6 separate regions of the Homo sapiens genome follow, and all the other regions are reported to be linked to region 1. The links are microRNA targets in miRTarBase. Many come from high-throughput screens and were not tested one by one. Region 1 holds a microRNA gene; each other region holds the end of a gene's coding sequence.
What was found. Region 1 holds the annotated microRNA hsa-miR-508-5p (UACUCCAGAGGGCGUCACUCAUG, at 3,202-3,224, opposite strand). A microRNA usually pairs through its seed, bases 2 to 8, with sites in the 3' UTR of a target mRNA and lowers its output. Matches are read on the target gene's strand: a 7mer-m8 pairs with bases 2 to 8, a 7mer-A1 pairs with bases 2 to 7 and ends in A, and an 8mer does both.

Region 1 (5,076 bases):
CTACACTCCAGCCTGAGTGACAGAGAGAGACTCCATCTCAAAAAATAAAAAATAAGAATCTGGAAAATAAAATCTAATCCATAGTGAATAAAAGCAGATTAGTGGCTGCATGGCTCTGTGGTTATGTGCAGAAGACCGAAAATGAGGATCACAAAGAGGCAGGAGGAATCTTTCAGGGAGGATGTATAATATTCCCTATTTATTTTGATTTAGGGGATGATTTCATGGGTGTATAAACAGAATATGTCAAAGCGCAAACTTTATGTCAGTCATGTATCAACGACGCTTTTTAAGAACTAAAGCTATCACAATACAAAAATCTCAAAATAACAAACACATGCTCATACACACAATTCAAAAAAACCATATAAGCTAAAAAAAAAAAATCAATCAACAAATAATGCAAATTATCCCTAACAAAAGAAAGAAATTTTAGCCTTATGTACCAAAACTTCTATAAATGATTTTTTAAAAAGTAATGAATCAGAAAAACAGGGCACAAATAAATAAAAACTAAAAAGTAAACCAATAATATATTTTTAAACCCCTATCAACAATCATCCCAAATTAGAAAAGCTCAACAAACAGGATTAAAATAAATAAATAAATCAACTACAACAAATTCCAAACAGAATCAATACATGAACTTATCAATTAGAAAGCATGTTGCAAATACCAAACCATGTAAGCATACACACAGATACTGAGGCAAAACATTTAAAATCCAAGCAAACTCCCACAACTTAAAAAAAAAAACACATCCCCAATAAAGCGCACATATATATGAAAGACAAAACTTTCTGAGCCCCACACAATTAAAGGGGAAAAAATAACTACAGCAACAAAACAAAATTCATACAAATTTAAATATCCCAAAACACAAGGAAAATGAAGAACCCCCCCCCCCCACACACACACACAAAATAAAACAATAAACACAAACTGAAACTAAAAATACATGGAAAATAACAAAATACTTTAAAGAAGTCAACATCATTCAAAAATAATCACAGAAATGCACGCATACACACCCACATCCATCCACCCACCCACCCACTCACATATACACACAAAAAGTCAGCTGAAAAGCAAATAGAAATACACTAGAGAATAAAACAAAGAAAGATATAGCAAAACAGCAGGAAAGAAACAAACATGTCTAAATACACAAAGGAAACTACAACTAAAACAACTCCCAAGCACCTCTCAGTACAAATCAAACCAAACGCATAAATTAAAACCAAATCAAAACCAAAGAAGAAAACTCAGATTGGAACCAACAACTAATAATTAAATCATGACAGCCCCCTCCCCCCGAAACAGGAATAAAACATTTGCTGAAACACAAACCACAATTCTAACTTAAAAAAAAAAAAAAACTTCAAGTATGCAACGAAACAACAAGCAGAGGTGCCATGAACACTGAATTGCAAACAATAAAAAATCACACTGTACCCCCAAAATATGTACAATGATTATGTGTCAGTTAAAAATAATAATACAAGCAAACAAAATAAACAAATAAACCTAAAAAGGAAGAACCAACTTTGAAAAATAAATGCACAGAGACTGGAAATGAAAGGACAATTATAAACAAAATAATATCACAAAAAACAAAAACAAAACCAAAATCAGACAGTTACCAATGTCTGGATAAACAATATTACTAAGCAAAAACAATTTGAAAAGTCCCCCCAAACCCAACCACAATATGCACATGAACGAATCAACTAACTAAATTAACTCATTTGTAAAAACCAACACACACATACTCACACACAAACTCACACCTTCTCAAAAATAAGCACAAATTTGAGAACAATTTGCAGTGGTGCCACTGTCACTGCCCCAGACACACATCTAGGGTGGTGAGACTTTCTGCCCAGGAAAACTCTTAGAGCTCATGAAATAGGGAAGAAGATACCATGAGCAGTAGACACTGGTTGTACACAGGCGATAATGTAGTAGTATTAGTGATATAAGAGAAGAATACCCTTCCTCTTGATTACAATCTAAATTTTTGCCAAGATTTGGAACGGAGTGAGACATGTCACTGACTCGAGATGACAACAAAATTCCATAAACTTCAACTTGCCCACTTAAGGTGCTTTATGAGAATTAATCCGGAAGGGGTCACCAGGATGATTACCCTCCAACCCCACTCCACCTCCATTTTTCCAGCACCGTAGTGTGTACAACCTGCTTCCTAGTCACTGCTCCAGTCTGAAGATGTTCTCCAGGGATCCGGCGCTGGCCATCTTTTGTCTGTGATTCTCAAGTTTTCTTTCTGAAGACCTTAGGTTAAGAAGGAGCAACTGAAGGGAAGTGGAAGGGAAAAGACAAATATATATGTTATCATTCTCAATAATCTGAGATGAATACCTTCACTTCTTTTTATTCCTTCATATAATTTTAAAAATAAAATGTTAAATATAATTCAAAGAAAACTAACAAAACAAATATTCTAGGCAACTTCTTAACCTTTTATAGATATGTTGAATTTAGAAAGGACTGATATACACATATTTTCAATAAATATTTTTTAAAATATACATATAAATATTTTTTAAAAATATATACATAAATATTTTATATATATATATATTTTTTTTTTAACCAACAGATAGATAATTTTGGAAATAATGTATTTTTCCAAGTAAGGAAGAACACACAAACTCTTAAGGAAAGGCTTGTCTTCAATCCTGAAAGAGCAAGAGCTTTTTGGTGCAGAGGGATGCTTCTGAGGCAGGAGGGAATTTGAAGAGCCCACTGGGAAATGAAAAGGCTTGGAAGCTAAAAGAAATGTTGTGAGGAAAAATACGTTGGAGGTTTTTCAAGGCAAAATGAATAGTTGGGCTCTGTAGCAGTAGAAGCTCTGAATATAAAAAGAGGAAAAGCCACATCCTCACTACAAATTTTCTTACCTGTGTGGGCATGCCTCCTTTGGACAAGGGTATATAAATCCCCGGAAAGCCTACATGGGTGATTTTTCCTGGGAGCCCTCAGTCCCTAGGATTTGCCTTTCAAGACCTGCCTATGGGAGTCCATTGAGTTAGCCCAGCAAGGGGAGGGTGGTGCTTGGACACAAGGGAGGGCAGCTCTGTGCATGCGGCTGTATACACTCACACCCATGGCCACCAAATATGCGTTACGTGATGTGTATTACTCTACTCCAAAAGGCTACAATCATGTTTTAGTTTACATGAGTGACGCCCTCTGGAGTAGGGCACTACACTCAGCTGAAGGTGGTGGCTCTACCCAAATATATACGTGAAGTTTAGATACGATGAAGAATTTCTAGTATGTTTGCCACTCCATTCCCATTCTCTAACCATCCTTTAGTGAGGATACTCTTACTTGCTGCATATTTCATGTGCTGATTTTGAGGACTTCTTCTCTTCAGTCGGCAACAAATAATCTCACCAACATTTTCCTATGTATTTTCAAGTCATTAGGAATGGCATATTAAAAATGATTTGTGTTCCACCAGTGTTAAAGGTCTCCCCACCCTCTGTGCCCCCAAATTCCTAGTCCCTTGGTTCAGAGTTATTTAACTTTTAACACCAAAACAACAGAGAGAACAAGGTAAACATGCAGAGAATTCAAGCAAAAGAGATAGATCATTTAGGCAGTGCCAGGATTCATAGGACAAAAATCTCATTTTCTCCACCATTCCTGGGGATTATACAGATCATTTACCTTGCCTGGAATCATTTCCAAGAGAGCAATTGGCTTAGAACCTAGTTATATCTTATTCTTCCTTCTCAGCCCTGGACTTTCTCAACATTTCCTAGAGTTCTTGTCAAGAGGGTCTCTTTCAAAATTTTCATTTGGAGACACAGGCCTCCCAGGAATCTATTTTTTCCTTTCAATACTGAGGCTGAAGAAAGGGGGAAGCAAGTAGGAGTAAGAGATCCACAGACCCCAAACTAGTTATATTTTAAGAGCTAGGGAGCCAAGTTAAACAAAAGACTGTAAAGAGAGAGGGAGGTGCACTGAATAAATTAAAGGATTAGCTAAATTACTTGCCATGGAGCAAGAGAAAGGGAGATTATGGTGTGGGACATTTAATCTGGACATGTCCAGGTCTCCCAGCATTCAGGAACCTCCACCAGTGTCAGTAGTCCAAAATGACCCAAGTCTACAGCTACACACCAATAAATCAAAACTCAAACAAAAATATTTCTAAAATCAATTCTACCTCATAAATAAGTGAAACAATGCTCAATATCACTAATTAGGGAAATGCAACCAAAACCACAATGTGATACGACTTCACACCCATTAGAATCAATATTATCAACAAGCAAACAAACAGAAAATAACAAGTGTTGACAAGTGAAGAAATTATAACCCCGTGCATTGCTGGTAGGAAAGTAAAATGGCACAGTCACCACAGAAAACACTATGGTGGTTCTTCAAAAAATTAAAGATATAATTACCATATTTCAGCAATTGCAGTATTGGGTATATACCCAAAAGAACTGAAATCAGTATTTCAAAGGGACATAGTGCCCCCATGTTCAAAGCAGCATTATTTATAATAGACAAAAGGTAGAAGCAATACAAGTGTTCATCAACAGATAAAGTGATATGCAAACTGTGGTATATGCATACAAGGAAATGTTATTTGCCCTACAAAAGGAAATAATTTTCTTTTTAAACTGGGTTTCCTTATGTTGTTCAGGCTAGAATCTAACTCTTGGACTCAAGCGATCTTCCTGCCTCAGCCTCTTGAGTAGCTGGGACTACAGTCATGTGCATACATGTCCAGCTTAGAAATAAAATTCTGACACATGCTATAACATGGATTAACCTTGAAGACAATATGCTGGGTAAAATAAAGCAGTCACAAAGGAATACTACTGTATGATTTTATTCTATTCAGTCCCTGGAATAGGCAAACTAGGAGAGACAGAAAGTAGAATAGAGGTTACCAAGAGCTGGGAATGGGGAGTCAGTGTTTAATGGTTACAGAGGTTTAGTTTGGGATAATGAATCATTTCTGGAGATGGATTGTGGTGATCATTGCACACCACTGTGGATTTACTTAATTCCACTGAATTTTACACTTAA
Region 2 (5,076 bases), not on the chromosome of region 1:
GATTTGCTTTAAAATAATACTGCCCCCCTACCTTAAAAAAGGTAAGGGTTCTAAAACCAAGGTCCAAAATTAAAAATAAGAAAATTATTTAAAGGTAGGGGGATAGGACAAATTGGCAAAAAGTTGGTTACTTGTTGAAGCTGGGGGCTAGTTACACTATTATTGTGTATACTTGAGATTTTCCATAGGAAGTTTAAAAAAAAGTGAATTAATTTAGGAGAGAGCACCTATATATACTCCAGATCAGCACTGTCCAAAAGAATTTTCTGTGATGATGGCAGTGTTCCATATCAGCACTGTCCAATGCTGTACCCACTTACCATAAGGGTTTTGAGCACTTGAAATATAGCAAACGCAACTAAGGAAGTGAATTTTTCATTTTATTATCATTTTTTAAATATTTTATTTTTTGAGACAGAGTCTCACTCTGTTGCCCAGTCTGGAGTGCAGTGGTACGATCTCGGATCACTGCAGCCTCTGCCTCCTGGGTTCAAGCAATTCTCCTGCCTCAGCCACCCGAGTAGCTGGGATTACAGGCACGTACCACCACACCCGGCTAATTTTTGTATTTTTGGTAGAGATGGTGTTTCATCATGTTGGCCAGGCTGGTCTTGAACTTCTGACCTCAAGTGATCTGCCTGTCTTGGCCTCCTAAAAAGCTGGGATTACAGGCGTGAGCTACCGCACCCAGCTGAATTTTTCATTTTAAAATGTAAACAGCCATATGTGGCTAGTGGCTACCATTTACACAGTGCAGCTCTAAATACTGGAAGACAGCCATGCCACCTTACTACCAGAATTTGAAGTTAATAAGTAAGCTCAGGCATCAAGTCAGCCCGCCGAGCCTCTTTCCCCTTTTTGCTAATAGCAGTATCTAGTATCCCAATCCCATTCCAAGCTCTTTTTTACCAGAAGTGGGGCAAGAGATCCGGGCTATAGTACAACTTCTTCCTGGCCATAGTGACTGGTCCAGGAAGAAAATAAGCAGAGCTCGGATCCTCATAATCCTTGCTTGGAATTTTCTCTATTACGAAGTAAAGCAGCTTCTTCAATTTGGAGTTGTAAGGAGGGAACCCCAGAACTGCTGGCCATCATGTTCATTTGCCACTCTTAGAATAAAACCAAAATTAGGATAAAAGACAGAGAGACAGTCTTGCTTCTCAAGTACTTAGATCCAGTCAACCCTAAATTCAGCTCCATCCCCTTTCCCATGTGTCGGTTAGGTAAGCCAATAAATTCCTTGTTTATGCTATTAATAGTATTGAGTTAAGTTATATCACTTGCAACCTAAAATAGTCAACGCAAAGCCCCACTCAGTCTGGGCAACACAGTGAAATAGGTTCTCTAGCCAGGCATGCCTGTAGTCCCAGCTACTCGGGAGGCTGAGGTGGGAGGATTATTTGAGCACAGGAGGTCGAGGCAGTGAGCAGTGATTGTGCCACTGCACTCCAGCCTGGGTGACAGAGTGAGCAGTTTACTGAAGCCTTGACCTCTCAGGCTCAAGTGATTCTCCCACCTCACCTCCTGAGTAGCTAGGACCACAAGCGGAAACCACTGTGCCTGGCTCTTTTTTTTTTTTTACAGAGATGGGGCTTGCCTAGGCTGGTCTCCAACTCCTGGGCTCAAGCAATCCTCTCGCCTCAGCCTCCCAAGCAGCTGGGACTACAGGCATGCCACCACGCCCGGCTAATTTTTTTGTATTTTTAGTAGAGACAGGGTTTCACCATGTTGGCCAGGCTGGTCTGGAACTCCTGACCTCAAGTGATCCACCTGCCTTGGCCTCCCAAAGTGCTGGGATTACAAGTGTGAGGCACTGTGCCTGGCCTTGATTTTTAGTTGAGATGGGGTCTCTCTATGTTGCCCAGACTGGTCTCCAACTCCTGGGCTCAAGAGATCCTCCTGCCTAGGCCTCCCAAAGTGCTGGGATTATAGGCATGGGCCATGGTGCCCAGTCCTGCTTTTTTTTTTTTTTTTTTTTTTTGATACGGGGTCTCGCTCTGTCCCCCAGGCTGAAGTGCAGTGGCGTGATCTTGGCTCACTGCAAGCTCCGCCTCCCGGGTTCACGCCATTCTCCTGCCTCAGCCTCCCGAGTAGCTGGGACTACAGGCGCCCGCCACCACACCCGGCTAAGTTTTTTTGTATTTTTTAGTAGAGATGGGGTTTCACCGTGTTAGCCAGGATGGTCTCGATCTCCTGACCTCATGATCCACCTGCCTCGGCCTCCCAAAGTGCTGGGATTACAGGCTTGAGCCACCGCGCCCGGCCCAGTCCTGCTTTTTTAAATGAAAAGATTCACCCAGATACTCACTGAAATAAAAAAAATTTTCAGCTAGACTAAGCAGCAAGAATTATCATATTACCAGTAATGGGCATAATATTCTGGGAGGAAAAAAAGTCACAAATCAGTCAGATTCAAGGATCAACCTGTTTAATTGTTCATATTTTATTCCTGTATCAGTAGATTAAGAAAGTAAAATTTTCCCAAGCACTGATTTATAGATCATGTTTATAAGCAGCATACAAAAAGTTAAGTTTCATAAACAATAACATTCAGTGATCTACTTAAATCCAATTGTAATCCTTACTTTAAACTAAGGGCAATAATAATTTAATACATAGAGTAAATACACACAAAACCTGTGTATTCAGAACTACAAACATGGTTTCCATAGCCACGTATGGTTTTAGTCAAGGACACATTTCCACAATGAACAAGTACTTACAAATATGTTAATAAAACACTAACCCAAATGCTTACCCTGCCATCAGCTTTTTAAACAATGCCATTCCTGCTACTGAAAGCATTTATTTTTAGAAGCTTGAATCTGCTCTGGGAAAACGGGTTCTCCTAAAACTTAACAGGATGTTATAAATCCGAAAAGATTTTAAATCAAAAAGCCTTCCAACACAGCATTATTCATGTGAAACTTGCTTTCTTTTTTTTTTTTTTGAGACGGAGTCTCGCTCTGTCGCCCAGGCTGGAGTGCAGTGGTGCGATCTCGGCTCACTGCAAGCTCCGCCTCCCAGGTTTACGCCATTCTCCTGCCTCAGCCTCCCAAGTAGCTGGGACTACAGGCGCCTGCCACCGCGCCCGGCTAATTTTTTGTATTTTTAGTAGAGACGGGGTTTCACCGTGTTAGCCAGGATGGTTTCGATCTCCTGACCTCGTGATCCGCCCGCCTTGGCCTCCCAAAGTGCTGGGATTACAGGCGTGAGCCACCGCGCCCGGCCCGTGAAACTTGCTTTCTTAAAAAATAATAATAACTTGTTATCTGAAGAAAATTAAAAGATTATCTTTTAAGAGAGATAAACATTCTTACAAAAAACTATATTTTCCTCTATCATCTCTTTAAAAGAAATGCAAACCAGTTCATTATCTTTGTTTTTTTGAGAGTCACACTCTATTGCCCAGGCTGGAGTGCAGTGGCGCCATCTCGGCTCACTGCAATCTCTGCCTCCTGGGTTCAAGCAATTCTTCTGCCTCAGCCTCCCAAGTAGCTGGGATTACAGGCACATGCCTCCATGCCTGGCTAATTTTTTAATTTTTAGTAGAGGTGAGGTTTTGCCATGTTGGCCAGGCTGGTCTGGAACTCCTGGCCTCAAGTGATCTGCCCGCCTCAGCCTCCCAAAGTGCTGGGATTACAGGTGTGAGCCACCACGCCCGGCCTAGTTCATTATCTTTAATAATGAACTAGACAATAAACTAATTGTTGTCTAAAAACTTCTGAATACATGAAGTACAAGTCTGAGCTGTCAAGTCAAAAATGCCATTTAGATTTCACATATTAAACAGCTATAGTAGGCCAGGCGCGGTGGCTCACACCTGTAATCCCAGCACTTTGGGAGGCCGAGGCAGGTGGATCACGAGGTCAAGAGATCAAAACCATCCTGGCTACCATGGTGAAACCCCGTCACTATTAAAAATACAAAAAGTTAGCCAGGCGTGGTGGCAGGCGCCTGTACTTCCCAGCTACTCGAGAGGCTGAGGAAGGAGAATCACTTGAACCCGGGAGGTGGAGCCTGCAGTGAGCCAAGATCACGCCACTGCACTCCAGCCTGCCAACATAGTGAGACTCCATCTCAAAAAAAAAAAAAAAAAAAAAAAAAGCTACAGTATAGCTTACAAGGGCATAAACATACCTAACACATTAAATACTACTTTATCCTTTAAATAGTCAAAAGTCAGAACAACGGCATGGTTTGCAAGGTACTTTGACTTATGTGTGGTCATTAAAACCCAGTAAGTAATTCAAGTATGGTAATATAAAGGCAGGCAATTACATGCACCAATATCACCCTAAAATCAAAGGCATAAAAATAAAGGCTGAAAACTTTGTGTTTCTCCATCTTTCATTTACATGGCTAGATATCAGAATCTTACTTTAGAAAATATACAATTATTATATATGGTTTCCCCAGATGGTAATTTTCGGAAACTACAAAAAGTGTCAAGATCCATAATTTGCTTCATCAAATGCTTTTCTAGCTCGTTTCAATTCTTCATTCATAGTAAGCAAGTCTTTAACCCTGGCAAACTTCCTTGGGTCCTTTCGAATCAAGAAGACGATATCTTCAACTTGTACTCGACCTTGTCTTCCAATTGACATTGCCTTGTGAGTCTATTACAAAGAAACATATTACATTTAACTTTTTTAAATCTAATATTTTACTGTTTTAATTTGCATTTATTAATTGCAAGTGAGGTAGAAGATTTTCTCTTATTATTATTATTATGGCTATTCATTTGTGAATTATCTTTCTACTCATGTCCTTTGTCTATTTTCTACTGGATTATTAGCAATGTTCTCCTTTATGCTTCACAGGCACTTTAAAAAAAATCTTAAGGACATGAAAGCTGTCAACTTTATTGTTCCTTTTTTGTTTTTTGATATATGTAGATTTTGTCTTCATTTATATAAAATAATTTTATAATTTTGTGTACCCACCCATTTCATTTATGCTTTGTGTCCTCCTCTATCTTAATACCCAATAAATATTGGTGGGTTTTCTAAAAATCAAATAACTCTATCTCATCCTGTCATTATATACTCACCTGTGCAAAATCAAAGACCTATC
Region 3 (5,076 bases), not on the chromosome of region 1:
CTGATGCTTCTCTTTTGGTAAGGAATACTTTTATTTCATGGATCCCAGGCAGGCATATAAAAGTTACGGAATTTATAAAATCATTTGGGATAATTAGAAAATGCAATTATTCATAACAGAAAAATAAAGACTTTCTAGAAAGCTTCTGACTTTGTCAATCATGGCTCTGTTCTTAACAAAGCACTCCTTCCTGAGAATAGTCCTAAGTGACAAAGTTGTTTCAGTACTTTTTTGTAAAATATTTAAAACATTTTAAAACCCTAAATTGATATTCTTAAGAAACTCAAGATATCATTGGATATTTACTGCTTCCTCACTCAGTATTTAAATTTGGTTGTACTTCGGGGGAAAACAACAGAGTTATTATTTTGCTGCTTACTAAATAGCAACTTCTCTTGAGCATTATTTGCCTTGTTTGTAAAGTTAAAACTGCGTAAAACAGTAATTCTGGAATAAAACATACATTCTGCCTACCTCAAAGAAATATTCTAAGAACAAAAGGAATACTATCCATGAAAATACTTTCATTAATGTAAAATTTTCATTATTTAGACCAGCCTAGGTTGGCAAACTTCTTAAAGGGCCAGATAGCAAATACTGTTATTCTTCGTGGGTTTAGGCAAATTCAAGACTATTATACAGGTAACTATGTAACCATGTAAGACTTAAGTACACTTAAAAAATGTGAAAAACCATTCCTAGCTTCCACTACAACAACAACAAAAAACAGGCAACCAATCCAACCAACCCAGCCTGTAAGTCTCCATCTCTTATCTCCAAAATAGGAATACAAATTGAGTATCCTTTATCTGAAGTGCTTGGGACCAGAAGTATTTAAGACTTTGGATTTCTTCAGATTTTGGAGTATTTGCATTATACCAGTTCAACATTCCTAACCCAAAAATCTGAAATCTTAAATGCTGCAATGAGCATTTTCTTTGAGCATCATGTTGGCACTCAAAAAGTTTGTGATTTTCGGAGCATGTGAAATTTCAGATTACCAGATTAGGAATACTCAACCTGTAGTACATTTACTAGGATTATCAGAATTAAATGATAGTTAATTCATACATAATTATACATCATATAGTATCTAATACAGCTCAATAAACAACAGCTAATATTTACTGCAAAAACAGAGGCAGCAAGGTCACTACTTAACAGGTGATATATGGATCAAGAATCACTGCTCTTAACAGTGATCTCAGTAAATTAATAGAAATGCACTCCTAACATGATTTTTACCTATCTCTTGGTTGTGGGATTGACTTTCTAGACATGATCTACATTTTTTTAGATAATTTCTAGACAAAAATGTTTGGCTTTAAGACAAATGCCACTGGGTATCAGGCTAGAGAATACACCTCCAGTGTACCTGGTATACCTTGAGGATAGGAGAGGAAAAACTGGCTATGAGACGACAATTACTGAAGCTGAGTGATGTGTACATGAAAATTTACTATTCTTTTTTTATATTTGAAATTGATGAGGTGCTGGGAAGCTGGCTTTCTGAGGGGACAACAGGAGGGGAATTCCTTGATTTGCTGCATTTATCACTTTCCATGGTGTAAAATACTCCTGCCATGGCCAATTTGTTATTGACATATCACTAAAGGCAGAGTTGGAGAGAGATGTGCAAAGATGGCTCCCAACTAGAAGATACCACTTTCTGTAATCAACTTTTTATAATGAAGTTTAAAAATATTAAGCCCTGATACATTATAGGGTAAAAGGAAATATTCATATAAATTAATTTAAAAATCAAAATACAAGGCTGGGCACAGTGGCTCACACCTGTAATCCCAACACATTCTGGGAGACCAAGGAGTGAGGATTGCTTGAGGCCAGAAATTTGAGAACAGCCTGGGCAACACAGTGAGACTCTGTCTCTACAAATAATAAAAAATTTAGCCAGACAAGGTGGCACACACCTGTAGTCCCAGCTCTCAGGAGGCTGAGGCAGGAAGACAGCTTGAGCCCAGGAGTTAGAAGCTGCAGTGAACCATTATCAGACCACTGCACTCCAGCCTGGCCAGCAGAACAAGACTCTGACTCTTAAAATAATAAAACTACAAAGCTTATGTTTACTCTAGCTGGCCTCTTATCTACCACCACCATCCCACCTCAGCCCAGTTTGAAATGCAATTCCACAGTAAGTAATCCCTCACGTTAAGCTTCATCTTAGCTTTATTCCTTTGTATCTGAGAAGCATTTTTTAACTTTCCATATATTATTCAAAATGGGTGACCAAATGAACCATCTATACAATCTTTGCTCAATTAAAAATATCATTTCTACTTTCTTCATTGTGCTTGGTTTGGATATTCCAAACAATCAATTTAACATTATCCTAGCTACTTACAAGCTTATACTTTAAAGAATCATACTGAGGTGCTTTTTCATATCAAATTTACCTGTTTATTCATTCCATAGCAAGCAGGATATTCACTATTTAAAACAAATTTAAGCAGATTTCTGTTAGATTTCTTTAAATCACTGAAAAGTAACACAAAAATACATATAGGTAGTAACTAAGTACTGACAAAGTATTCTACCTATGCAATATCCTATTAAATGTCTAAATTACCATATGTAAATTTAATTGTATTATTTACTCAATGGGGAAAATCTGGATTACAGAACTGAGGAAAATTATGTTTTATGTAAATTATAAAAGGCCAAAGTCAATCATGTTGAATAAAATAATTTTGAAATATAAGCCAGTAATATACCATATGAGTATCCCAAGAGAAACCCTGGATAGAAAGAAACTTTTAAAGTCACTCTTTTTTTTTTTATTAGTAATGTTAATGTTTGAGCTCAGTGTTTGAGCATGCTGGTTTTACCTATTTATGCTAATTTTAAACCAACAATTGAAGTGAGAAAATAATCATTTATCCTTGAAAGTATCTTTAGCATGGTCTTCCTAATTAAAAATACCACTTAAAAAAGTGAGGCAGCAAAAGCATGAACTGGAGTCAGTGGTCTGTCTGGGTTAAAATTGGCCCCACGATTTACTACCTATGACTTCAAGCAAGTTGCTTAACCTCGCACTTCATCCCACTTCATTATCTCATTTGTGAAATAGAGGTAAATAATTAACCCTGTACTCACAGGGAATACCGAGATTATGCATGTAAAGTGCTTACAGTGCCTAGCACATAGTAAGTGCCTAATAAATGTTAGCCATAAATATTATTGTGGGTATAGAAAATCAAATTCCCTAGTTGCAAAATGTATGCACTAAATGCTGAATATCAAAGAAGTCAAAATTCAACCACACAAGTCTTAACAGTTATAGAGTCTTTGCATGGACACAGTTTCGAAGCTAAAAAATGAGAACCTAATATTACATGCAAGTTATGTGACTCATCAGTAAATTCTTCCTAGAAAAACAAACTATACCACTTGTCAGATTCTTCCAGCATAAGCCTGAGTCCCCTTGCACCTATAATTAGATTCTTATTTTACTATCTTTTGCGTATCTTGTATTAATTTTACTTGGTTGATAAGATGTTGAAGAAACCATGGAATTATACACAGCACTATACATTATTACTATAGAATGTCTGGTCCCTCCCATCATAAATATGGTTTAATGAAGTTATTGAAAAACTTCACAATATCGAGCTGCAATTCTTTTTTCTTTTTATACAAATACAAGTTAATTAGCTCTATTAAGTTGCAATTTTATTTTTATAAAGCTTTGTAAAGTTATGAACATGGAAACCCTAAGAATCACCTAAGCTTTTTACATAAGTAAATTTCAAGTTGACAGTCTGTCCATTTTGAACTATTTATAATTAACAGGACACTTAACACAGTAATATCTTAGACAAGGAAGAGGGCATTAATTCTGCAGGCAGGTAGCAATGAAAATGCCAAACCTGAACAATCAGTCACTATTTCCTTATACAGTTTGAGTAAAAGAGGTAGACTACAGAAAGAAAAAAAAAAGTGAATATAAAATGTATCTTCCCCAAATACAACTCTACTTCAATAAGTCTTGAAGATTACCGATGACATCAACAAAAATGAATGAACTCAGGGAATGAGTTCTTTCTCCCCATCAAAGAAAAAAACAGCATGTGTAATTTTAAATTTGAAAAAAAAAAAGAATGGCAATTTGCAAGCAAAAGAAAACCAGATTCACATTCTACTATTTACATTTGTTCTATTCACAGGTCAAAAATAAAATATTTCATTAGATAATTTAAAAAAAAAACACTTTTTTAAAACAAATGTATTTTACTCCATCAATACTGCAAGGAAGATAACTGAATTTAGAAATGCTCTCTCTCTACAGCAAAGTTAACTTAACTTTTCGGGGCCCAACTGGCCTATCATTTAGATCTTTAATAGCAGCCATAGCTTCATTATAGTTTATCATAGCAACAATGGCTTCCCCTGTAGGTAAGCCTTGCTCATTATACTGTATCGAAACTGAATCAGGTATGATTCTGTAACCATGGAAAAAGTCTAAAATTTCATTCACATTAGCTTTAAATGGAAGATTCATTATCTTAATAGGAGTTACTCTACCTGAACCACAATTTATTTTTGGATCAGGCATAAATCTCCCCTCAGGAAAACTTCCCATATTATGCTTTCCAAAATCAAACTTGCCACCTTCTGGGCGACCAAAATTCACAAAAGGGCGGTGACTTCTAAAATCATCAGGCGGGCTCCTAAAATCCTCACCAGGAGGTCTAAAATTGTCAGGAAGTCTAGGGTCCTCCTCCGGAGCTTCCCTAAGGTCTTCCTCTGGGAGCTGCCTGAAGTCCTCATCAGAAGGGCATCTAAAATCTTCCTCCTGGGGGCTCCTGAAGTCCTCATCAGGAGGGTGCCTAAAGTCTTCATCAGGAGGGCCCCTGAAGTCTTCATCTGGTGGGTGCCTGAAATCTTCCTCTCGGGAGCGCCTGAAATGCTCCTGAGGCGGCCGCCTGAAATGCTCCTGGGGCGGTCTCCGGAAGTGCTCCGGGGGCGGGCGCCTGAAATGCTCTGGGGGTGGCCGCCTGAAGTGCTCTGGGGGTGGCCGCCGGAAGTGCTCTGGGGGAGGCCGCCTAAAATGCTCTG
Region 4 (5,076 bases), not on the chromosome of region 1:
GCCTGGCGCACCGCGCGGAGAGCCTGAGCCGCCTGAGCGGCGGCGTGGCGCAGGCCGAGCTCTACCTGGCGGCTCACGGGTCGCGCCTCAAGAAGGGCCCGCGCCGCGGCCGCCGCGGCCGACCCCCCGCGCTGCTGGCCTCGGCGCTGGGCCTGGGCGGCTGCGTGCCCTGGGGTGCCGGGCGACTGCGGCGCGGCCACGGCCCCGAGCCCGACTCGCCCTTCCGCCGCAGCCCGCCCCGCGGCCCCGCCTCCCCGCAGCGCTGACCTCCACGCCCGGACCCCTGGCCACCCCGACAAGCTTCGCCGAGGTGCCGACCGACCGACTGATCGCGGACGCCGGCTGGAAGGACTACGGATCCGCAGGAAGAGGCAGTTGGGGGCCAGGGGCCCAGTAGAGGAGGCTGAGGTGCGGTCTTAGCGGCTGGTGCGTTCGAGGGTCGGTCATGGCGTGTGGGGGGCTGGTCCAGGGCCCGGGAACTCCCTTCCCTGGAGCTTCTGGCGTCTGCTGGGTCCCTAGTAAAGCTGCCACTTTCTGTTGCCGCCTCTCCCGACCATCTGGAGAGTGAGAGGTGGTAGCATCAAGTCTCCATTATAAGAGTTGGACTCTTGAGGGGGCTCAGATCCCAGGAACGGGTTGGCGGCAAACTTTTACCACTTGGAACCTGCCGCACGGATGCAGCACCCCCCATCCTCACCCCCACTTGCGTGGCCTTTCCCGGGCCCCTCGGAGCTGTGAGCAGTCTTGCCCTTGAGGATGCTGCTTCCTGGCGCCGCCCAGCTCCGTGCCTTCGGGAGGACAGAATAATGAGGCCCCAGGATGGGGTGGAGGCTGGCACAGGGCTGTACCACTGAATTCCCCCTCTAGGCCTGTTTCACCTTTGGGGAGACGGAATCCCAGAGAGGTTTAGGATTTGTTCTCTTCATACTTAGGCCCTTCTTCTTCTAGGAGACAGCTTTTCTTATGCCGTCATGCAGGTTCGCAAAAATTACAGCCTGACTCACATAACCAGGACAGGATGTCTGGCACCTGCTCACCCAGGGATCCTTACATAGCAGAACCTAGAGGCTTAACTCCCAACCTGTTACTAAGATGGCTCGGCCAGGTTGGAACCAGGTGATACCCTTTAACAGGCCCCAAGGGGGCAGGTGTGGTATCAGCTTCCAGAAAGGGGGGCCTTAAAGAGCCAGATCTGAGGTGAGATCTGCTTCTCTTCCTGTCCAGATGCCCTTCAGTCTCCCATTCCTCTGTCCCCACTGTGAATGACCTGGCTACCACATTGCTGCTCACCAGCTGAGTTAATTTCACTCTCACTTATCAGTCTGCGAAGTGGATCTCTTAACCTCCCAGAGGGGCTGTGGTGACGTTAACCCAGGGCAGAGGTCCTTCTTCTTCCTCACTAAATCATGGAAAGATAATTTTTTTGTTGTTGTTGTTTGTTTTGAGACAGTGTTTCGCTCTTGTTGCCCAGGCTGAAGTGCAATGGTGCGATCTTGGCTCACTGCAACCTCCACCTCCCGGATTCAAGCGATTCTCCTGCCTCAGCCTCCCAAGTAGCTGGGATTACAGGCATGTGCCACTATGCCCATCTCATTTTGTATTTTTGGTAGAGACCGGGTTTCTCCATGTTGGTCAGGCTGTTCTTGAACTCCCGACCTCCGGTGATCTGTCCGCTTCGGCCTCCCAAAGTGTTGGGATTACAGGTGTGAGCCACTGCACCTGGCTGATAATGTATTATTTTAACTCACACCTGGAAACAGGCACTGCTTTTGCTGATAGAGCCATGAGCTAATTTAAAGTCCTACTTTTGCAGGGTGGAGAGGGGATTTCTCAAGGTCACATGCCAGTGAGGGAAGAATCAAGGTCCCTGGCCTGTGTGTGCACCTCCCACAGTACCCTGGGCAGGGGCTAGGGAGAGTTGTCCTCTGGATCCTGTCTGCTCTGTGACTTAGAACAACTCTGCCCCCTCTCTGGGCCTCTTTCCTCAGTCCCTCCTTGAGTCAGGGCTTGGGAATGGGGTGAAGTGGGGAGGATGCTTCCTTCCACAGGAATCTGGGAGGGTCAGGTGCACTGCTCTGATAGGCTGAGGCTTGGGGCCCTTATGGGATCCTCCCTCATCAGCCCTTCTCCCTGGATACCAAACTTTTTGGCTGGTTTCTCGGCTAACAGCAAGGCTTTCCTGAACCCTTTCTTAGCTGGGGAAGGGAGGTTCAGGAGGGAGTCTCAGAGCCTCTGACAAAGTTAGGGAACCCCAGGGAAGTAATGAAGGGGGCAATGCCATCCTCTGGTCTTTCCAAACAGGGAACACCTTCCAAAGCCACTTGGGTCATTTGGGGTCTAGAGGCTTAGAGAGGACAGGACATCTTGGAAAGAGCTGAGCTCAGGCCTTGGTGCTGGGCTGCAGCCAGGACCATTTGTTTTCTGGGTTGCATGGGAGGGGGCACTTGGTCCGGAGAAGCTTTTAGCTAATGGTGTAAAGTGCTCGGTGCCATCACAGTTTTGGCTTTCTCCAGGATTTATTTGTAATCAGCTTGTCCCGATTTGGGGGTGGGGTGGGTGAGTAGAGAATTAGAGACGACACTGGCTAGTGTGTGTGTGTGTGTGAAGTAGAGGGTAGTAAATGGAGATTGGTCCTGGTGTCACAGGCAGCTCTGCCCCCTCCCTCCACTTCCAGATGTCCCACTGCTCCTCATCAAGCTTCCTGGCCAGGGCACACACATGTAGACTTGAACCCCAGCTCCTAGTTAGTGCTATGTCCATTACCACATAGCCAACTAACAAAAGGCACCTCCCACACCTGCCTGACCCTCCAGGGCCCCCTCTAGAAGCTCACCCGTCTGGCTTTATTCAGGCTGGGTGCGGTGGCTCATGCCTGTAATCCCAGCACTTTGGGAGGCCCACGAGGGCCAATCACTTGATGTCAGGAGTTCAAGACCAGGCTGGCCAACATAGTGAAACCCCTTCTCTACTAAAAATAACAAAAATTAGCTGGGCGTGGTGGCAGGTGCCTGTAATCCCAGCTACTCGGGAGGCTGAGAAAGAATTGCTTGAACTCGGGAGGTGGAGGTTGCACCGCACTCCAGCCTGGGCAACAGAGCAAGACTGTGTCTCAAGAAAAAAAAAAAAAAAAAAAAAAGCTCACCCGTCTGCCTCCATTTTCTTCTTAATTAGCAAATATTGATAGGGGCTCAGAAAGCAGAGCCAAATCAGAGGAGGGTCTCTACTTTTAAGGGCTTATGTCTCCTGGCTCTTTTCCAGGCAGGCTTTTCTGGCTGTCACCATCCCAGGGGATCCCTTGGGGGCTGAGCAGTTTGTTGGAGGCCAGCTCTAGCCTCGGACAGAAGGCTGACCCACCCCTTTTCCCCACATGACTTTCAGAACACTTTCTTGGTGGCCCCCAGCTCTGGGGACAGGACTGAGTACAGGGATCTTGGGGGACCTGTGCATTGAGGACACTGACGGCCACCAATGAATTTATATCTCAGCAAAGGGAAATGAGGGGGGAACAGGAGCCTTTCTTCAGGCTGGTGCTTGGGGCTGGGAGACCAGTTCAAGGTTCTAATCTGGGACCTGCCCCTCAACTGGATAACCATGTGAGCGTTGCCACCAGAGGGCAGTGTGGGGCTGCTTTCTCGAGACGAAGGGGTGTGGCCTGGAGGAGGTTCAGTCCTTTATTGTTCCTGCCCCCAATCATCCCTTTGCCCGGTAGTCCCCGGGGCTTCCTAGACCTTGAGCTGCAGGGGCCTGGGAGAACGAGCAGGGTAGTCGCGGTCAGCGCAGCCCTAGAGTGGGAGTGTAGTTCTGGGGATAGCTTCCTGGGTGGAGTGGGACTAGAGGCCAGAGCTGTGCCCATCACCGGCTCCCTAGGGGCGGGAACCCTCTTTGAAAGGGGAGCAAGGCCGGGTGCGGTGGCTCACACCTGTACTCCCAACACTTTGGGAGTTTGAGGCGGGCGGATCACGAGGTCAGGAGATCGAGACCATCGTGACTAACATGGTGAAACCCCGCCTCTACTGAAAAAAAAAGGGGGGAGCAAAGGAAGCTCCTTTGGTTGGGCTGAGCCTGGAACCCCAGGGAGAAGACCCATTAGGAAAGACTTCCAGAAAAGACAGGTAGCCCTTGTTGGGGTCACTATCAGGATAAAAGACCAGAGTTATTTTGTATTCACAGATTTGTTACACTAATTGATCAGAACCCAGGGTCCCACTGCCAGTGGTGGCCAGTGTTGCCTCTTAGAGATTAGGCTGGAGCCACAGAACCTGGCCAAGGTGGTCCAAGCCTGCAGCCGCTCCCCTGTTGGTGGGTTCTTCAAGAACAACTCGGGTGCTTAGGCTTCTCAGAGCTGAAGGAGAGGCCTGCTGTCATGAGAGCGGTGCAGGAGGAGGTATTTGGGAAAGCCTGGAGATCCCCAACCTACTTCTTCCCCCATTGGTCCTTGACTGCACCCTGGCCAGGGGCGATGGGGGAAGGGAACTCTTGGTTCTGGAATAATATCTTAACCACCTCCTCTATGCCAGGCCCCTGAGCACTTTACACCCATTAATCTGTTCCGGTTCTCCCAACCACTCTGCAAAGTAAGGGTTATTATTCCCATTTCCACAGGTGAAGAAACAGAGAGGGAGGGCGGGTGACTTGCCCAAAGACATAGGAGCTATAAGTGAGGGATCTCTTAAACATTAGGATATATGGTGATTCATTTATCAGGCTAAAGAGAGGTCCGTTTAGGGGGATATCTGGGCTCCCACATTCAAGGCTGTGTATAGTGACCCTTGGTCCTTGGGTATTGGAAGGGACATGAGATGCTGGAGGGGTGGCAGAAGGTGCCCCTCCCAGAGTTTGGGCACACCCCAACCTGGCTGGGCCCTGGGGGTGAGTCAGGCTGAGTCAGCAACCTGGCTTCTGAGGAGGGTGGGCCAAGGATGCTCAGGGCTCAAGCCTCCCAAGGGCTTGCCTTGGAGGGCTGCCTCCTCTCCCTGTAGATCTGGGCTGGCTAACAGGGTGAAATCCCATCTCTACTAAACATACAAAAATTAGCCGGGCGTGGTGGCATACCCCTGTAATCCCAGCTACTCCGAA
Region 5 (5,076 bases), not on the chromosome of region 1:
CAAACTCCTGAGCTCAGATGATCCACCCATCTCGGCCTCCCAAAGTGCTGGGATTACAGGCGTGAGCCACCGTGCCCGGCCGGATCTATTCTTTTCAAACGAATGAAATGTTAACTTTCTTGGTACACTTCCTTGGTATAATGCTGAACTCGTATAGTAACTCAAATGGGTATCTGCATAGATACAGGGGTTTTCGTTTTGTTTTTCCAATTTGCAGGAAATTATAGTGACTAGCGTAATAAAAACAATCAATGACTTGGGAGACAAAGGAATCCCTGAGTATCTCTCCTCTCATGCCCTGTGAATGAATAACAACTTTATGGCTTAGAGTCCTCCTGTCTTCCCTTTTCACCCCTCTAGTCCCTCCTCCGTCCATTTCTTGAAGGGAACTATGAGTGTGATAGAAGGTGGAGTGGGGATTCCCTGTGGCCTGAAACATTTCTTGCTTAGTCTAACTCAAAAGATCCTTTTTCATTTGTTACCAAAAATGTATTAGGTCCCTGTTGAAGGCTAGGCATGGGGTAACTGGTAGGGGAATACAGATATTTTTGAGTTCATAATCTGGTCATGTGGGAATTGCTATCTTTGTGATTTTGATTATTTCTTCCAGATTATTTTATTCAATAAATCTAGGAGACTCTGGGTTTTAAGGAGTCAGCATCTAAAAGTGATCTTGCAAGCCATGCAATGAATACTCAAAGTGTAGAGTAGTCCACAGAAAGAATAGGGAAAACCTAACATTTCTGTAAGATTTAAATTTCAGTATAAAATCTGGAACATTCTACTCGCAGTAGTATTTTAAATGTTGTATTTTCGTGAGTTTGTTAACCTTCGTTTTTTGTTTTTGTTTAACATTCTTGCATTTTAAATCAGGTGCAGCTATTGCTGGAGTTTACCGAGCAGCAGGGAAGGAAATGATACCATTTGAAGCCCTCACACTGGGCACTGGACAGACATTTTGCGTCTTGGTGGTCTCCTTTTTACGGATTTTAGCTACTCTATAGCATACATCCTTATGCTGAGATGTTGAACTTAAACTTTATGGAATCCTCCAAAAGAATACATTATGGAGTGTAGTGTTTTCTTAGTTCTTCAAAGGGAAGCAACTTGGATGAACAGGAACATGAAGGACAACACATCTCAGCCTTTTCTTCATTTTGAAGCTCCTAGAATTGAAGACTTATGTGGACTCCTATTGTTCTCAACCAAAACAAGTCTTTTGGCTTTCTTTTTTGTAGATATTTGATTTAAGCAGTTTTCATGTGTACCTTTACCCAAGCCAAGTCAACAGTGTCTCTGGGGTGGCATCCTTTGCACTGAAATTTACAGTATTCTGTGAGATGTCGCATATTTTGAAGAAACCGTGGAAGATACTGGTTTATTTCAAATGAGCAGAGTATGTTGTATTAAAATCTTATCTAATCTTGATTAAAATTTGGCAAACTCTTTTCTTTGCTACATCTTAGTGACAATAAATGCCAAATAGGTTTTGGTTGAGTATAGTTTTGAAAACAAATTTGGTGAAATAAAGCAGGAAAAAAAATTTAAGTATAACTCAAGTAGTGGCTTTGGTTCCACTGTTTATAAATAAAAAGTAGATAACAATGAATAATGTGACATTTTCTGGACAACTGTCTTGACTTCTGATTAAGATATTTTAAGAGATGTGAATTTGTTATTTTGTATGTTTTATCAAAATAAGCTAGCTAATTTAGACTTTTTAGATTTTCTGTACCACCTTTCCCTATCACTTTTAATTCTCTTAATTTTATTTCATTTAATTGGAAACATACATACCCTATTAAATGGCTTGAGTTGGAAATTTTAAGCCAGATTTGTTTGGACATTGAGGCACACATAAGATACTTTAGGCATTCTGTCATAGTTTTTCTTAGTGACTTTGGTATACTAATGACCCTTGAGAAACTATAGAAGTGCATCTGAAACTAGAGTTAGTGGTTATTGATTTTTTAGCTTAATGTGTTTACCTAGTGGTAACTCTTCAGCCCACTTTTACAGTATTGGGTATCAACTCCCAGAAAGTGCCTAAAGTTTAATGTTCAGATATGTACCCACTCTCCCCTTTACATTTTTATTCAAAAGAATTTATATCTTTAAAGAGATTTAAATATCAAGAGTTTTTTTAAAACTTAATTTTAGCTATTTAAATTTTTATTCTACTGCCTAACTTTCTTTTTCATTAAAAGGCCTGAAAACTGTGACTCTTTGAGAGGGAAAGAATCGCAGAAATTAAGTATTTAATGTGATCCTTTCCACCTAAACTGTTTTGTATGGAATACAATCAGTGTGGTGGTAGTGGTGGTGGTTATCTGCAAAATAGTTTCTGGTGATTAAATCTGACTTTTTTTTTTTTTTTTCTTTTAAATGAGACGGAGCCTCACTGTGTTGCCCAGGCTGGAGTGCAGTGGTGCAATCTCAGCTCACTCCAACCTCTGCCACCCGGGTTCAAGCGATTCTCCTGCCTCAGTTTCCTGAGTAGCTGGGATTACAGGCACCTGCCACCGTGCCCGGCTAATTTTTGTATTTTTAGTAGAGATAGGTTTCACCATCTTGCCCAGGCTGGTCTTGAACTCCTGACCTTGTGATCCACCCGCCTCGGCCTCCCAAAGTGCTGGGATTACAGGCGTGAGCCACCGCGCCTGGCCATAAATCTGACATCTTTAAAGGAAAGTTTTCATTGTGAGATTAAGGCTTAACAGCCCATGAGGTCATATACACATGAACGTATCTATTCCATTTAAAGCAATACACACTCTGGCTTCTGATTAAAAATAGCCAGGAGGAGAGTCTCTGAATCTACTGTGATTCTGGAGTCTGCCCAATTTGGAAAAAAAAAAAAAAGAAAAAAGTCAGGAGGACCAATTTGCCAGGGAAACTCATAGAAAAGAATTACAAAGAGATCACAAAAACTGGACATATTCTTTTGACTAATTAGACCACTTATGGCTGGGCGCAGTGGCTCACACCTATAATCCCAGCACTTTGGGAGGTCGATGTGGGAGGATTGCTTGAGCCCAAGAGTTCAAGACTGGCCTGGGCAACATAGTGAGACCTTGTCTCTACTACAAAATAAAAAAAAATTAGCTGGGCGTGGCCTCAGCTACCCAAGAGGCTAAAGTGGGAGGATCACTTGTGCCTGGGAGGTTCAGGCTGCTGTGAGCCGAGACCACGCCACTGAACTCCAGCTTAGGCCACAGGGCAAGACCCTGTCTTAAAATAATATTACTAATTTTGGTAATTAACTTATCAAAACTATAGTGACATATACACGGGCAGAAACTTATAAGTAGAGTTGTAATGCAGCCAAATATTCTTACAAATTCCCTAACAAGAAGCTCAAATCTTTCTCACAGGCAAATTGTAAAAATTCTAGTTTTTTGTTTAAAGAGCTGTGATTTTCAAAAGTATCCCTTCAGTTTAAGAAATCTGGGGAATTGGTAACTTTTCTTATGGGAAATGATTGCCATCATCTCTACTGAAGGATGCCTCTTACTGAAAAATGTCTTTTGAAGGAGTTCTTGCCTAAAGCATTCTTTGGATGTAATTTCATACACTAAACATATAGACCAGTAGTTAGTGGGCCCCTCCTCTTAAACAGTAACTTTTGAAGTACTGATACATGATTAAAATGTTAGATATTTTTCACTGGAGCTAAGACTTAAAATTAGGGCATTTTGAAAGGTGTATTTGTTTCTGTTTCTTGTTTGATATATTTTGGTTATCTACTCTTTTAAAAAACTAAACGTATAAAAGGTATCTTCAAATTACTGAGTGTTTCATCCATCCCAGTAGGTGAAGTATTCTCCAGTGAATAAATCTATATATATATATAGATTTTAAATAGCTTGAGCGGTGTAGCTTGAAATGTTTTCAGGGAAAGACTATTTGAATCATAAGGAATAGCTTTGATTTTCTTTTTTATGTCTCAAATATAGAATTATTTGGGGGTGGTCACTCAGATGGAAGAATATTGGCAATTGTGTTGAACATTTTACCTTATATAGTTTTGAGAATTTTTGCCAAAAACTGATTTCTTAGAAATATCCTCCCCCAGCTGTGCTTTGGTTTTTTGGTTTTTTTGTTTTGAGACGGAGTCTTGCTCTGTCGCCCAGGCTGGAGTGCAGTGGCATGATCTCGGCTCACTGCAAGCTCTGCCTCCCGGGTTCACGCCATTCTCCTGCCTCAGCCTCCCGAGTAGCTGGGACTACGGACGTCCACCACCATGCCCAGCTAATTTTTTGTATTTTTAGTAGAGACGGGGTTTCACCGTGTTAGCCAGGATGGTCTCAATCTCCTGACCCGCCTCCACCTCCCAAAGTGCTGGGATTACAGGCATGAGCCACCACACCCGGCCTCTGCTTTGTTTTTTAAAAAAAAAGAAATGCAAGAGAGGGAGGGAGGCAGCCTCCTGACCATAAAAGCTGATTTCTTGATTTTTTTTTCTTTTTTTTTTGAAATGGAGTCTTGCTCTGTCTCCAAGGCTGGAGTGCAGTGGCATGGTCTCAGCTCACTGCAGCCTCCGTTTCCTGGGTTCAAGTGATTGTCCTGCCTTGGCCGCTGAGTAGCTAGGATTACTGGCACCCGCCACAAGGCCCAGCTAATTTTTGTATTTTTAGTAGAGACAGGGTTTGATTATGTTGGACAGGCTGGTCTCAAACTCCTGACTTCAAGTGATCCACCCGCCTCGGCCTCCCAACGTGATGGGACTATAGACATGAGCCATCATGCTTGGCCTTCTTGATTCTTGAATACGGGGTTTTGAGGTGAAAGCATTTCATGAAAACTTAAGTTCATACACAAGAGCATCATGAATATTCTAAAAGAGGTATCTGTGCTTTTTTTGTGACCACAAAATATTACTTCTTATGAAATGTTTACACTAGGTGAGGAAAAGTTCATTAATTACCTTTAAACCGTTCCTTATTTTTTTTAAGATTTTAAATTGTATTTTGGCTTTTGCCTCCAGTATCCTTTCTGGTTGCTCTGGTTTGAATTAAGTTCCTATTATGCTGCAGCACATATCAACCTTCCCTAAGTAACCATTTCCTGGAATGT
Region 6 (5,076 bases), not on the chromosome of region 1:
GGGTAAAAAAGACAATACGAGATTAAATATTAAATATTTAATAAAATGATTAAATATTAAATATTTAATAAAATGATTAAATATTAAATATAGCAGTGAAATTTCAGAGTGGGGCAATTAACACCAGACCTCCAGTCTAAGCCTCCCAGATACCAGGAATCACTTCAGACACATGAATTTGGTAGTGGTGTACAGGGTGAATTAAGGCCCACTTAGAAGACTCTTGCAAATAATCCAAGAAGGAGCTCATTATGTAACCCAGGATCCCCAGGTTTTTGGGGGTATGTGCTATGAAAAAGTATCCACCTGTAACTGTTGCACCTTGAGTTCTTGCTGTTTCAAAAAGTTCCAGGAAGATGGGAGGCCAAGGTGGGTGGATCACCTGAGGTCAGGAGTTCGAGACCTGCCTGGCCAGCATGGTGAAACCCCCCTCTACTAAAAGTACAACAATTAGCCAGGCATGGTGGTGCATGCCTGTAATCCCAGCTACTAGGGAGACTGAGGTAGGAGAATCGCTGGAACCCGGGAGGCAGAGGTTGCAGTGAGCCAAGATCGCGCCATTGTACTCCAGCCTGGGTGACAGAGTGAGACCCCGTCTCAAAAAAAAAAAAAAAAATGTATTAGCCTGGTGTGGTGGCAGGTGCCTGTAATCCCAGCTACTTGGGAGGCTGAGGCAGGAGAATTACTTGAACCCAAGAGGCAGAGGTTGCAGTGAGCTGGAACTGCACCATTGCACTCTAGCCTGGGCAATAAGAGCAAAACTCGGTCTCAAAAAATAAAAATAAAAAATAAAATTTTTAACAACCAATTATTTTATCTTAGGATAAAAATTTACCATATAATTTTTAATACATCAATTGTATTTTCCTAAATTTATATTTTGATTAATAGACCGAAATACTTTTAGTCCTTTTATAAAACCTAAGAAGCCAAGAACAAATGTCTATGTATTTAGCAATTTTTTTTTAATTTGGATATGATCCAGACATTTAATGAGTATCATTTAACATAATTTTAAGATTTTAAAATTACATGAAAAGCTCATTTATAAATGTTTATTTCATTTATAAGATTTATTTCTCAATTATTCCTAGATTTATGAAAATTGAGATAGAACTAGTCATTGTTTTTATTAATCAGTTTTATAGACTGTTACCATGAAGTATTTATCTTGATATTAAGGTTTAAGTAAGAACCTTAAAGTTAAAAACAGCCACCCTGTTGCTAACTCAGAAAAGTTACAGCTATTTTTATTAAAACAACAATATAATCATATTTATTTAAAAACTATATAAACAAAGATCATTTTGTTTTAGGCTTTATGACTTTAAAACATCTAGCAGAGGCAAATATAAAACTGTCTGACCAGTAAACCCAGACAAAAATGTCTGCTGACAATTTTGAAGACATTTCTAATTTTATTTTATCCACAATTTTAAAACCAATTAATTTATCAAAGATTTACTTAAGTCACATCAACTAAAAAAAACTGGGGGTTAATTACTATACATTTTATATGAGTGCTCATTTATTTAAACCAATCAGAATAAAATTTGTTAAGGGATTTCTGGCTGACTACACCAGCTTTTATGTAGATACAACATTCAACATAATATATGTACATACACATAAACACATTTAAACACATATACATAAAGATATTAAAACTTTTATTTTAGAATTTTAGTCATGATATAGTAAAACACGTAAATTCACCAGTTTATAAAAATGATTAGATGCAAATTATTTTTCTGACAAAATGGGCTAAGGATAAGCTTTAAGCTTTTTTAATAGGCAATCTTATAAAGGCTGTAAATCAAATTTGGGATAAAGCAGTTTGAGTCACTCACCAGTGCACTAAATTGAACAAAAAATAGTTAACTGTGAAAGTGTGCTGAATTATGTGAGTAGGACCAAAAGACAAGAGTGATTTTTAACAAGGTTTATACAGTATTTTCTTGGACTCAATTCTTTGTCATTGAAGATAAAAATGCTGCTATTCTTTTTTGTATAGGGAGGAAGGTTTTACATGGGAATTTAATCTTTGCTTTAAAAAAAAAACAGTAGGAAGGTCAAAATGACTTTGTTTTATATCTGCTGGTTTTCAAGTGTTTTTATTTAAGTAGTATGTTAGAATAGCTGTTTAGAGAAGGATAAAGAGGGGATACTGTAAGAAGGGGAGGGGAAAGGTCTAGAAAAGAAAGTTTCAGCCACCTTTGAGACAGTATTTTTTAACAAGGCAATATTTGTATCCTGAATGTGTTTTGTTTTTGTTTTTATTTTTTTTTAGCCTCAAGATATCAATGAAATATGCATATCTTATTTGGAGTGTATGATTTTATAGCCTCCATCTTTTAGTTCAGTTTTAAGAAAAACAGACTAAATGATCCCTGTAATGTTTGAATATGTTACTAGCTGGAGTTCCAGAAAATATTCTGGCATGCCTTTGAACTTTGAGAGCTCATTTCGTGGGTGCTCTGATTTAATGTCAACTATGCAAAAGCCAAGTAAATGCAAGCACTGAATACACAAAGGCCAAATAAATACAAGACAGGACAGAAAATAAAATACATGCTTACCAGTAAGAATGATAAGCCTTCTCCAAAGAAAGGGAAAAATTCCCTCATCCAAGCCTCAAGGTCCAAACCTCGCAGCTGAGGTCAACAGGGGGAAAATAATTCTACCCAACAGATCTACCAAACAAGAGGGGGAAAGACCTCTCCCTAATCATATCCCAAATAAAACAGAACTCGAACCATATCTGAGAGTTCTGTCCAAGAGATACTTACTGGAGGGAGAAAGGATTACCTGTGAAAGTGGTGGGGGTGTAGGGGGTTCAAAGGGCCCCAACATGGGTACCTCATGCCATAACTCCAAAGGCCAATGATTCTCCATGAGGTGAGTCAGCTTTGTATCCCACTTCTGACACCATGCATGTCAAAGTCAAAATGAAAATGTAGACACAAAACTAAATTTAATGTTTTGAGAAGAAAGAATTTCAATTCTAGGTGATCTTTAGTATGTCCAACAAACAAAGAGAAGGTTGAGGGTTTTATTTAAAACTAAGAATGTTACTTGTGGTCTTTCTTTTTTTTTTTTTTTTTTTTTTGAGACGGAGTCTCGCTCTGTCACCCAGGCTGGAGTGCAGTAGTGCAGTCTTGGCTCACTGCAAGCTCCACCTCCCGGGTTCACGCCATTCTCCTGCCTCAGCCTCTAGCCTCCCGAGTAGGTGGGACTACAGGCGCCCACCACCATGCCCGGCTAATTTTTGTATTTTTAGTAGAGATGGGGTTTTACCATGTTAGCCAGGATGGTCTCAATCTCCTGACCTTGTGATCCACCCGCCTCGGCCTCCCAAAGTGCTGGGATTACAGGTATGAGTCACCACGCCCGGCCAACTTGTGATCTTAAGAGAAAGTTCATTGGTATTAGTAAAGCCCTGGGGAGCTGGCAAGCTCCAACTGGTGGGCAATGGCCATAGGTAAAATTAGTCCTAGAGTTACAGCAAGTTATCTCAGCAGCTATAGACAAAACTGGTCTCAGGTTACAGCAAGCAGTTTCAGTAGCCAGGCTCACAGAGAATTACATTCTTGGAGCAATATTATGTGTCCCAAGTACTTTTTCCCCCTAGCTTCTTGAGTCTGTTTTAGTTGGATGTGACAAGAATGACTCAATTAATATTATCAACTTGCACAATTATAAAAGAATCACCATTTTATGTAAGCACTTAGGCTAAAAAAATAGTAAAAACATCCTATGTGGCCAGCAGCCTTGAAACAATAGAATTTAGTCAAATAATGATTACCTGCATAAGATATGCTTTCCATCTAAGTAGTTTCCCCAGTGATTTTTGCCAGTATTCTAATTCTACACGGAGTAAACACAAACTGTAAATGTTAAGAAATTGCCCATGGCATAATAATCACCTTTCAAATTTCTCATATGTTAAGGCTACTTCTTAATAATTATTATTCTCTAATAATTTGGAGTTACAGAGAAAGTAAGATTCCTTCAAAGTTTGGTGAGTTTGCTGGGCGCAGTGGCTCACGCCTGTAATCCCAGCACTTTGGGAGGCCGAGGCGGGTGGATCACAAGGTCAGGAGATGGAGACCATCCTGACTAACACGGTGAAACCCCATCTCTACTAAAAAAATACAAAAAGATTAGCCGGGCGTGGTGGTGGGCACCTGTAGTCCCAGCTACTCCAGAGGTTGAGGCAGGAGAATGGTGTGAACCCAGGAGGTGGACGTTGCAGTGAGCCGAGATCACGCCACTGCACTCCAGCCTGGACAACAGAGCGAGACTCCATCTCAAAAAAAAAAAAAAAAAAGTTTGGTGAGTTTTTTTCAAAGTTTTATTCCTTAGATATTATCTGTGTAATCAGATAGACTGGGCTAAGCCACAGCCTCATTCTTTGTCAACTGGATAACTTCAGAAAAGTGTTTTAACTTCTCCAAATCCTAGTTTCTTCCGCTGTAACATGAGGATAGTCAACACTGACAAAGAAGGATGACTATAAGGATTCATGAGATACGGTGTGTAAAGCTAGCCTCATTCATGGCAATGGTCACTGCTCAGCAAGAGAAAGCAGCCCTTATGACTATATTGCTGAGATTTTATTAACTAACCTTTTGCCCTATTAATTTCATGACCCCTTTTTTAAACAGGTAAGTGTCAGAAGAAGATCCTATAATGTCAATGTGTGTCCTATAAAGGTTAATCAGGACTTCAAGGTATCTCGAACTTAATTGTTCACATGCCCTTTTGATCATTCTTTTCTCTCTATTTTCCTTTCCTTCCAAAATAAATGTCTCTTTTCTAAGCTTTAAGTAAAGAGCATGTGACCATTCCTCAATGAGCTCTTTTACATGTTTTGCATTGTTTGGCTGAGAACCAACTTGAATGCTTTTTAGACAAATTGTGGTGATTTCACCATCCACTTTCTCCTGACTCAGAATGTGGAATTTTTTCAGTGTGCTTTCATAAGATCCACACTTGTGTTTCAGGTAAAGAAAAACATCTGTGTCAAGCACAAGCATTTCTCCACTTCTAGCAGTCTCAGGTACTAAGGTCCTG

Region 2: the mRNA of TAF13 is a reported target of hsa-miR-508-5p. The part of its 3' UTR that is shown has no 7-base or 8-base seed match.
Region 3: miRTarBase lists RBM12B as a target of hsa-miR-508-5p. Seed matches in the 3' UTR shown: 7mer-A1 at 4,250-4,256 and 7mer-m8 at 2,021-2,027.
Region 4: miRTarBase lists TRNP1 as a target of hsa-miR-508-5p. The part of its 3' UTR that is shown has no 7-base or 8-base seed match.
Region 5: the mRNA of TMEM170A is a reported target of hsa-miR-508-5p. Seed matches in the 3' UTR shown: 7mer-m8 at 2,416-2,422, 7mer-m8 at 2,829-2,835, 7mer-m8 at 4,135-4,141 and 7mer-m8 at 4,503-4,509.
Region 6: miRTarBase lists RBM43 as a target of hsa-miR-508-5p. Seed matches in the 3' UTR shown: 7mer-m8 at 4,278-4,284 and 8mer at 4,201-4,208.

Annotation. Positions count from the first base shown.
Region 1 is chrX:147,233,779-147,238,854 of GRCh38, forward strand. MIR508 (microRNA 508) reads right to left here and starts at 3,249; the gene lies at 3,135-3,249. All of the region lies in intron 2 of LOC105373347 (periphilin-1), which reads left to right.
Region 2 is chr1:109,060,075-109,065,150 of GRCh38, forward strand. TAF13 (TATA-box binding protein associated factor 13) reads right to left here. Exons shown (of 4, transcript NM_005645.4): 4 at 4,066-4,619. The coding sequence ends at 4,449. Among named protein-coding and RNA genes, the nearest start is that of TAF13, 13 kb to the right of the region's middle.
Region 3 is chr8:93,729,105-93,734,180 of GRCh38, forward strand. RBM12B (RNA binding motif protein 12B) reads right to left here. Exons shown (of 4, transcript NM_001377960.1): 4 at 1-5,076. The coding sequence ends at 4,301. It overlaps CIBAR1 (CBY1 interacting BAR domain containing 1), which reads left to right. Exons shown (of 9, transcript NM_145269.5): 9 at 1-2,423. Among named protein-coding and RNA genes, the nearest start is that of RBM12B-AS1, 8.5 kb to the right of the region's middle.
Region 4 is chr1:26,994,205-26,999,280 of GRCh38, forward strand. It overlaps TRNP1 (TMF1 regulated nuclear protein 1), which reads left to right. Exons shown (of 2, transcript NM_001013642.3): 1 at 1-408. The coding sequence ends at 266. Among named protein-coding and RNA genes, the nearest start is that of TRNP1, 3.1 kb to the left of the region's middle. RefSeq lists enhancers at 3,358-3,963, 3,474-3,768, 3,721-3,780, 3,791-3,910, 4,692-5,076.
Region 5 is chr16:75,443,486-75,448,561 of GRCh38, reverse strand. It overlaps TMEM170A (transmembrane protein 170A), which reads left to right. Exons shown (of 3, transcript NM_145254.3): 3 at 874-5,076. The coding sequence ends at 1,004. Among named protein-coding and RNA genes, the nearest start is that of CFDP1, 13 kb to the right of the region's middle.
Region 6 is chr2:151,246,287-151,251,362 of GRCh38, forward strand. RBM43 (RNA binding motif protein 43) reads right to left here. Exons shown (of 4, transcript NM_198557.3): 4 at 1,654-5,076. The coding sequence ends at 4,620. Among named protein-coding and RNA genes, the nearest start is that of RBM43, 13 kb to the right of the region's middle.